Homo sapiens: one gene and its partner. The protein of the gene in region 1 purifies or fractionates together with the protein of each later gene. This does not show direct contact. Each region holds a gene or a part of one and is shown on either strand. Other genes may lie near its edges.

What was found.
Region 2: the proteins of GNRH1 (region 1) and EMC8 purify together in Homo sapiens (affinity purification with mass spectrometry; one large-scale study listed by BioGRID and IntAct). This does not show direct contact.

Annotation. Positions count from the first base shown.
Region 1 is NC_000008.11:25,421,154-25,425,899, reverse strand, and holds the start of GNRH1 (progonadoliberin-1 isoform 2 preproprotein), read left to right. Parts: upstream 1-1,638; 5' UTR 1,639-1,699; exon of another isoform or gene 1,700-2,557; coding exon of another isoform or gene 2,558-2,569; coding exon 2,570-2,710; intron 2,711-4,231; coding exon 4,232-4,327; intron 4,328-4,746. UniProt on the Homo sapiens protein: Stimulates the secretion of gonadotropins; it stimulates the secretion of both luteinizing and follicle-stimulating hormones.
Region 2 is NC_000016.10:85,789,545-85,793,044, reverse strand, and holds part of EMC8 (ER membrane protein complex subunit 8), read left to right. Parts: intron 1-111; exon of another isoform or gene 112-748; coding exon of another isoform or gene 749-823; intron 824-3,500. UniProt on the Homo sapiens protein: Part of the endoplasmic reticulum membrane protein complex (EMC) that enables the energy-independent insertion into endoplasmic reticulum membranes of newly synthesized membrane proteins.

The DNA of each region.
Region 1 (4,746 bases):
TTGCATATTGTAGTGAGATGAGATTCCACTCTTCATGTCAGAATGGCACTTACATGAGTCAAAGTGTCTAAATGAAATAATTTAAATGGAACAAAGTCAAATACTTACATTTTATTTTTAAATTCTCCTCTATTTGCAGTTATACTTTAAAGTGTACTCCCTTCTCTATCCTATCATGAGGACTGGACAGCCTCCACAGAGATGGCTGGACAAAGCAAGGGAATTTACTTAGGTAAGACACCATTTCTCTTTACTCTGAAATCCCTGCAAATGTAGTTATTCCAGAGGAGACTGTGCAATGACTGATGGGTTTAGCATCCTACATGAGGGGAAATTGCCATTCCCAGCTGTAAAATGAACAAATATCCAGTTATTTTTTTTAGCCATCTTACAGCTTAGCTAATATAACAGGATTTACAGCCAATTATACATGAAAGTTTAATTCTGTGTCAGATAAAGCATATCTTTGATGCAGAAATAGAGGCAGCATTAGGCCTTACCTGGTTAAAAGCTTTTTGCTTTCTATTCATTCATTCGTTCATTCATTCATTCAAACCTATACTTACTGAATGCTCACTAAATGCCGGGGGTTTATTAAGAGAGATTTAAATAAGATGGGATCTTTGACTATTACAGGTTTCAGCCTAGGGGTAAATTAGGGGAAGACAACCATGTATTCAAATAAATGTAATTAAGAGTAATGGTTGTGTGTGTATTTTACATGCTTGTCCTGTGTAAATAACACGTCCACGGTTGCACCTCTGGGGTGGAACATCTATAAAATTTAGATAATGATACCCACTTTGCATGGCTATTGTAATGAATGCTCTTATACATTTGCTATTTATTAAATAACTATAATTTCTCATCTTTCTGTTCCCACTGCCCTTAAGAGTGATTTGCATATTTAACTCAATAAGCATCTACTGAAATGAGTTGATCTGTTGATGTAAGTCTGCTCAATATGGTCTTGCTCTCAGAATATGTTTCTTGCCTTTTTGATGCTTTAGAAGGCTTTCAAGGTAAGTCAAGCAGGGAACCTGGTGGGTAGATGAGGGAATTTTCAAACACACAACTGTCTGATTTAGGATCCTACATGGACTTGGTATATAGTGTCACTTACTTGTAAATCAGATTTTTAAAATTGGAAGCAACTCTGTGATCATCTAGTCCATCTAGTCTACACCCTTCCTTTTACAAATGAAGAATCCAAGAGCCAGAAGCTCCCAGACATCCTGACTCAATGTCCTATATTTGTTGTATAGCCTCCTTTGTGGAAGTTATGTATGCATTTGACTTCACTTAATCTAAGACATCTATTTTCCTTGAACTCTTGATAGGTCTGCTGGTTTCCTCAAGGGAATCCAATCTAGCTGGATTTTAATCTCTTTGAATTGTGTCCTCAGCTATAAAAGTTTTAGCTGAGGTTTTAATGGCTGCACTTAAGTAAATCTAACAGATATACCAGGGGGTGTTCCAATTACATACACCATTAAAGGGCTTTATGTGAGGATTTTTAAAAATTACCATTAAAAAAAAAAAAGCATAGTCCATTTGCAGTATAATTTACCAGCAGGAAAGATTTCAATGTCCTGGAAAAATTCCCTATAAAAAGGAAGATAGGAAAACAGAAAAGTCACAGTACTCAACCTACTTCAAGGGAAGATTGGGATCTTTTTGGCTCTCTGCCTCTAAACAGGTAAAAGGCTTTGTATTATTTCTAGCACGAGTTTTTCTTCTTTAGATTGCATGCTATTGTATGTCTACAGGGCATTTGACAGCCCAAGGGCTAAATCCAGGTGTGACGGTATCTAATGATGTCCTGTCCTTCACTGTCCTTGCCATCACCAGCCACAGAGATCCAGGCTTTGGGGACTCCCACAGCTTATCGACCAGTGTTTGATTTAGTTTTTAGCCTCTTTCCCATCAAATGAAAATTAACTTGGAGACACATTTCATTAGAAAATTAGAGGCCCCCTTGGCTAGGAAGGCATCTGGTCTGGGACTAACTACTTTGAACAGTGTTGAGTCCTCTCTCCCACAGATGGTTCAGCCAGCAGTAATGCTAGGAAGACTGAAGGATAAATAGAAAAATGTCATTAGTACCATGGGGTAGCCATGTAATGTCAAGCAATTTTATATTAGCCAGAGATTCCTAGTAGGAGCTACTTTTCTTAACAGATGACTCAGTTCTCTTTATCTCAGGAATGAAAGAGTTGAAGACCAATCCACAACAGGGGAAATGTTAAGGCAAAATGATGAACTTGATAAGGGATGAATTATGGGGTTTGGATAACCAAACAATAAAAATAAAAGTATAGACTATTTTAGTACTAAAAAGGTCCTGAACATGTGAGCTTAAGTACTCATTTTGTCCCCAGTGGCTAAGAAACTAAAGGCAAGCCAGCAAGTGTCTCTGAGTTTCAGTGTCTGTATGTAAAAACTGACTCTGACTTCCATCTTCTGCAGGGTTAGTGATACAGATGCTAGCTTTTTCACTAAAGAGGTCTTTTAGTTTATACTCAACCTTGTCTGGATCTAATTTGATTGTGCATTCATGTGCCTTAGAATGAAGCCAATTCAAAAACTCCTAGCTGGCCTTATTCTACTGACTTGGTGCGTGGAAGGCTGCTCCAGCCAGCACTGGTCCTATGGACTGCGCCCTGGAGGAAAGAGAGATGCCGAAAATTTGATTGATTCTTTCCAAGAGGTAAGTTTCTCTCAGCTTCAAAATAAGACATAGTGATTTTATTCAATTTAACTATATTAAACATTCAGGATAGCCCCAATGTCAATATTCTATGATGTTGTACCCTAGATGCTCCAGGTGAGATAAGGCACTTACAAAGTAGAAGTCCCATTCCTACTTTCAGTTCACACAGGGACTAAACAAAGAGCTGGAAAAATTCCAAAAGAATATATTAATAGCAACAAGTGTGAGACAGCACGTCATACTCTGAGTGTATGGGATTGCTAAAGGAATTAGAAACAATGGGATAGGGTCAAGGTCTGTATCAGAAGATGATTCTTTGGGATTTGGAAAAAACGTTAGAACTTCGTTTTTTTTTTCCTCATTTCATCTTTTAAACATATCTATGCTATTAGATCAGTACATTTTTATAATTTATAAATGAGTATCCTTATCAAGGATGCATGCCCTATAATTTCTTTTCACTGATAGGGGCATTTAAGCAAAGTTGGAGACTGGTAGAATACAGGAATTAGCAAACTCAAGATGATAAGATAACGTAGTAGAAAACATGCTGATTTAAATTCATATAGATTAGATTATAGGACTGGCACCAACACTAACGTGAGGTACTTGCTTTCTTGTTTTTTGGGGTTATTTTCTAAGACAGGGTCTCGCTGTGTTATCTAGGCTGGAATTTAGTGGCACGATCACAGCTCACTGCAGCCTTGACTTCTTGGGCTCAAGTGATCCTCCCACCTCAGCCGTCTGCATAGCTGGGACCACAGGCATGCACTATCACACCCAACTAATTTTTAAAACTTTTTATAGAGATGGGGTTTCCCTATGTTGCCCAGGCTGGTCTCAAACTCCTGGGCTCAAGGGATCCTCCCACCTTGGCCTCCCAAAGTGCCGGGAGGATTTTTGTTTATAAAATATGACCACTCATCAGGGTCATGTAAGGAAAGAAGCCATCTATGTTAGCTGATTAACCTGAAAAATAACCTAGGACTGAGAATGGGAAAAATTTTAAATCATTTCATTATCATTGGAAGGAATTATCTCTTTTCTGAGAAATAATAAAGATAATTTAGTATTAAAGAAGACCCAGAATCTGAAGCCTCTTCTCTGCAGGTTATACATGAAGCAAATCTCATTGAACTATAACATATTTAGTAAAACCTAGAAAATAAAAACCAACCTTTTTTTACAACTATAAACTCTTGGGGGTTTTTTGCTTTTTGTTTTTTTGGGTATACTGACTCTCATGAGGCTCAAAGTGCCTCCCTCTTTTCATCTTTAAGGGGAAAATATGATATCTTCTTACTGTCTCCATTATCTCCAGATCCCCATGCCATTCAGTAGAAATGTCAGATGGCAGATCTGTGTCCTTAAAGTCCCTATGCTAATCCTGCAACTTTCCCAATCTCCCCCAGCCCCACATCCCCCTTGACCCCACTCTCCACAATTTTTTGGTGGAAATGGAAAACACCATTTCATTTCTTTATCTCCATCTCAAAGCATCACATTCTCTTTCTTCAGATAGTCAAAGAGGTTGGTCAACTGGCAGAAACCCAACGCTTCGAATGCACCACGCACCAGCCACGTTCTCCCCTCCGAGACCTGAAAGGAGCTCTGGTAAGTTAAAGTGATCATAACATGATCACAGCATAGAGCTCTAGAGGTGGATAAGCCTTTGGGGATCACTTAGGACAGCTACCTCCCAGATACTGTGGGGCTTACATTCCTGACTCCTCTGTTACCTCCTGTGGTAGGACCGTGTTTCATGACAATCCCAGTTGGTGGTTAGACAGCACTAGGGGCTGAAACGTTTTTTTGTTTGTTTGTTTTTTCTGAAGTTGAATTGAAATCTCTCTGTAACTTTTATCTCTTAATCCTGGTTCTAGCTTTTGGGATAACTAACAAAACAAATTTCTTCCCACTGCTGCATTTCATTTCTTCAAGTAAAATCACCAAACCCCCTAGACTACTCCACTCCAGGCTACTCCACAGCCCTCCACCTGATCCTGCAACTGTGCTTTATCTTACATGGTTTT
Region 2 (3,500 bases), on another chromosome or scaffold:
GTGAAAATGTCCTTTCTCTCTAAAAAGTAAATGAAATTGCATGAGTAAGTGCAGAATGCGGAAGGTGTCTATATCAGAGTCAGTTTGACTACATTGACAACAGTCTCCACAGAGTTTTCTCCTGACCTTTTATTTTCATCTTGATTTTTCACAAGATGCACATCAGGGTGTGGGGTGTCGTACAGCGAAGCAGGGACATGGAAATGGATTCATTGGGAACAGAGGTTGAGTGGCTTCTCGGCTGTGCCTTGTCTTGCCTCGCTTCGGAGGAAGCTAGTTGCCTTGACTCCTAGCTGCCACTTAGATCCACCGCAGCTTTTCATGCAGGAGCCATTTGGGCTGAGGGCAGGATCCTGCAGCCACTGGAGACCTGGCTGCCACACCCACACCTACACCACCAGCAAGCCCCATCCTCTTCCCCCAGCCCACTCCACTCCAGGGCACTCTCACCTGATGCCTAGTTCCAGATTCCGGACTGTCACAGGAAACTACCCTTATTAGAACTCATCCACCCTGCCGCTGTGAGTGCTGAGGCTTGGCCGAGTCTCCGTTCCTCCCTTCGAGTTCTCCATTCCTCAGTTGGTGAACGGGCTGTGTGCACCCCTCATAGCCATCCATACAGCTAACTTGGTTATTCTCATGTGTGTCATTCAAAAGTTCTAAATTCTAAAGCCAGGCCAGAGCTTTTGTGACCTGGTTCGCTTTAAGGGCAACCTCTTCAAAGAGGTTCTACTTAAAGTTCCAGGTCATGACATTTTTCTGCTGGAATTTGGTTGGGCCCTTGGAGTTTTCTTACAGGAATTTGTCCCTCAGCAGGCAAAATGTAAGTTGAGATATACATGTGTTTGTCATAGGAATCATCTTTTGTACCAGGTGGTTTCTGTGCTCTGAGAGTGGGTACAAGGTGATACCATATGTGTTTACTGGGCTATGAGTCCTAACCAGGTGGCTTCAGCCCAGGAAAGAGATGGAGTAGCCAACTGAGACTGCTGCTGGGGGTCTTCAGGAAGTTGCCTGTAGCTAAGTAAAAAATATGTCCTATGGTTTTTCCTAGAAAATGTTGTATGGTATGGTCAGCTGAGTAATAACCCCCCAAATATGTCCACATCCTAATCCCCAGGCCTTATGTAGCAAAAGGGATTTGTAGATGTGATTAAGTTAAGGGCTTGAGGGTGGAGAGAATATCCTGGATTACCTGGGTGTGCCTCATGTAATCACAAAGACCTTTGTAAAGGGGAGGCAGGAAGGTCAGAGTGAGAGGAAGAGATGGATGATGGAAGCAGAGGTCAGAGTGATGTGGCCATGAGCCAAGGAATGCGGGCAGCCTCTAGGTGCTGGAAAAGGCAAGGAAAAGGATTCTCCTCTAGAGCATCCTGAAGAAGCACAGCTCTGCTGACCCATTATAGACTTCTGACCAGTAAGATAAAAAATTTTGGCTGGCATCATCCTCAGCAAACTAACACAGCAACAGAAAACCAAACACCGCATGTTGTCATAAGTGGGAGTTGAATAGTGAGAACACATGGACACAGGGAGGGGAACATCACACACCAGCGCCTGTCAGAGCCGGGGAGCGAGGGGAGGGAGAGCATCAGGACAAATAGCTAATGCATGCGGGGCTTAAAACCTAGGTGACGGGTTGGTAGGTGCAGCAAACCAGCATGACACATGGATACCTATGTAACAAACCTGCATATTCTGCACATGTATCCCAGAACTTAAATAAAAATTAAAAAATAAAACATGCACTTTAATCAAGTACGGTTTATTTCAGAAATGGAAGAAATTAGGGAATTTGAAGTTAGAAAATCCAAAAAATGTATGCATTAAAAATTCTAAGAAAAACAATCATATGATAATCTCTATGGATGGTGAAAAATCCTTCAATAAAATTTATTTCTTGCCTTAAAAAAAAAAAATTGGGCATGGTGGCTTGTGCCTGTAATCTCAGCACTTTGGGAGGCCAAGGCAGGAGGATTGCTTGAACCCAGGAGTCCAAGATCAGCCTGGGCAACATGATGAAACCTTTGTCTCTACAAAAAATTTAAAAATTAGCCAGACAGGATGGCGCACACCTGTAGTCCCAGCTACTCAGGAGGCTGAGGTGGGAGGATCACTTGAGCCCAGGAGTTCAAGGCTGCAGTGAACTGTGATCTCACCACTGCTCTCCAGCCCGGACAACGGAGCGAGACTCTCAAAAAAAAAAAGTGTTGTTTTAAGCCACTAAGTATGTGTAACTTGTCACAAGGGCAATAGGAAACTAAGACAGTGGCCAATCTGACTGTGAAAATAAGGGCAGGCTACACTGGAGAGCAGGGATAGGGACACCCGGGGGGCAGAGATGTGGGTCACCTTAGGGGAGGACACACTCAGGAGGCCGGCCCATGATGGCACATGAAGGCTGGGAGCACGGTGCTCAAGGATCAGCTCATCAGGGAACTTGACCAAATTTAGAGCAAGCCCCTTTGATAGTGTATAGAGATGTTTGTTCTAAGCAGCAATAGAAAGCTTCTGGAATCTGTTCCATTAAGAGGTGATAGAAACAAAATATGAGTCGTTTTGGAGTTGTTTTCAGCAAAGTCACAATGATAGCACCATTATAGATATTTTACAGACATAATCCTGATCTTTTGGGTGGATGACCAGAATGTCTAGTTGGTTCACTGAGCCCTGGTTTTGACCCAATATGGTAATTCGTGAACTCTTAGGAGGCCAGAAATATCCTAATCCTGTGCAAGGCAGGGACCCTTGGACTGTAACTGTCTTGTCTGCTTTTGGTCGTGAAGGAGACTCAGAGGCCCAAACAAGAATTTAGGAAAAAGAGCAATAGGATTGTGTTTAAAAAACACACACATCCATTTTTAACCAGTTTATTCCCTACAAAAAAAAAAAAATCAAGGTACCAATTTTGTTTCCTCTTGTGCAGACTGAGAATAGACTTTATTACAGTGTATTCAAATTCCATTATGCCAAAACAGGATGAGCTTTTGTTGTTTTGAATAATGGCCTTAGACCTGCAGGAAGCTGCATCTGGTGAGAAACATGGTACCATAAAAGAAACCCAAAAACTTCAAAGGTCTGCCACCTTGCTTCCATTTCAAAGCACGCCGGAGAGAACTAAGGACATGTGCACGTGCCCCTTCCTAACTTGGGACCTCTTTACCCTACACCCCAACTGAGGGGTATTTCATGATGCGGTGCTTAGAATGCTGAGATGGAGTATAAAAGACTTTTTTTTTTTTTTTTGAGACGGAGACGGAGTTTCACTCTTGTCACCCAGGCTGGAGTGCAGTGGCATGATCTTGGCTCACTGCAACCTCCCCCTCTGGGGTTCAAGTGATTCTCCTGCCTCAGCCTCCCGAGTAGCTGGGATGACAAGCGCCCACCACCACGCCCAGCTAATTTTTGTATTTTTAGTAGAGATGGGGTTTCTCCACATTGGCCAGGCTTGTCTCGAACTCTTGACCTCAGGTGATCCGCCCACCTCAGCCTCCCAAAGT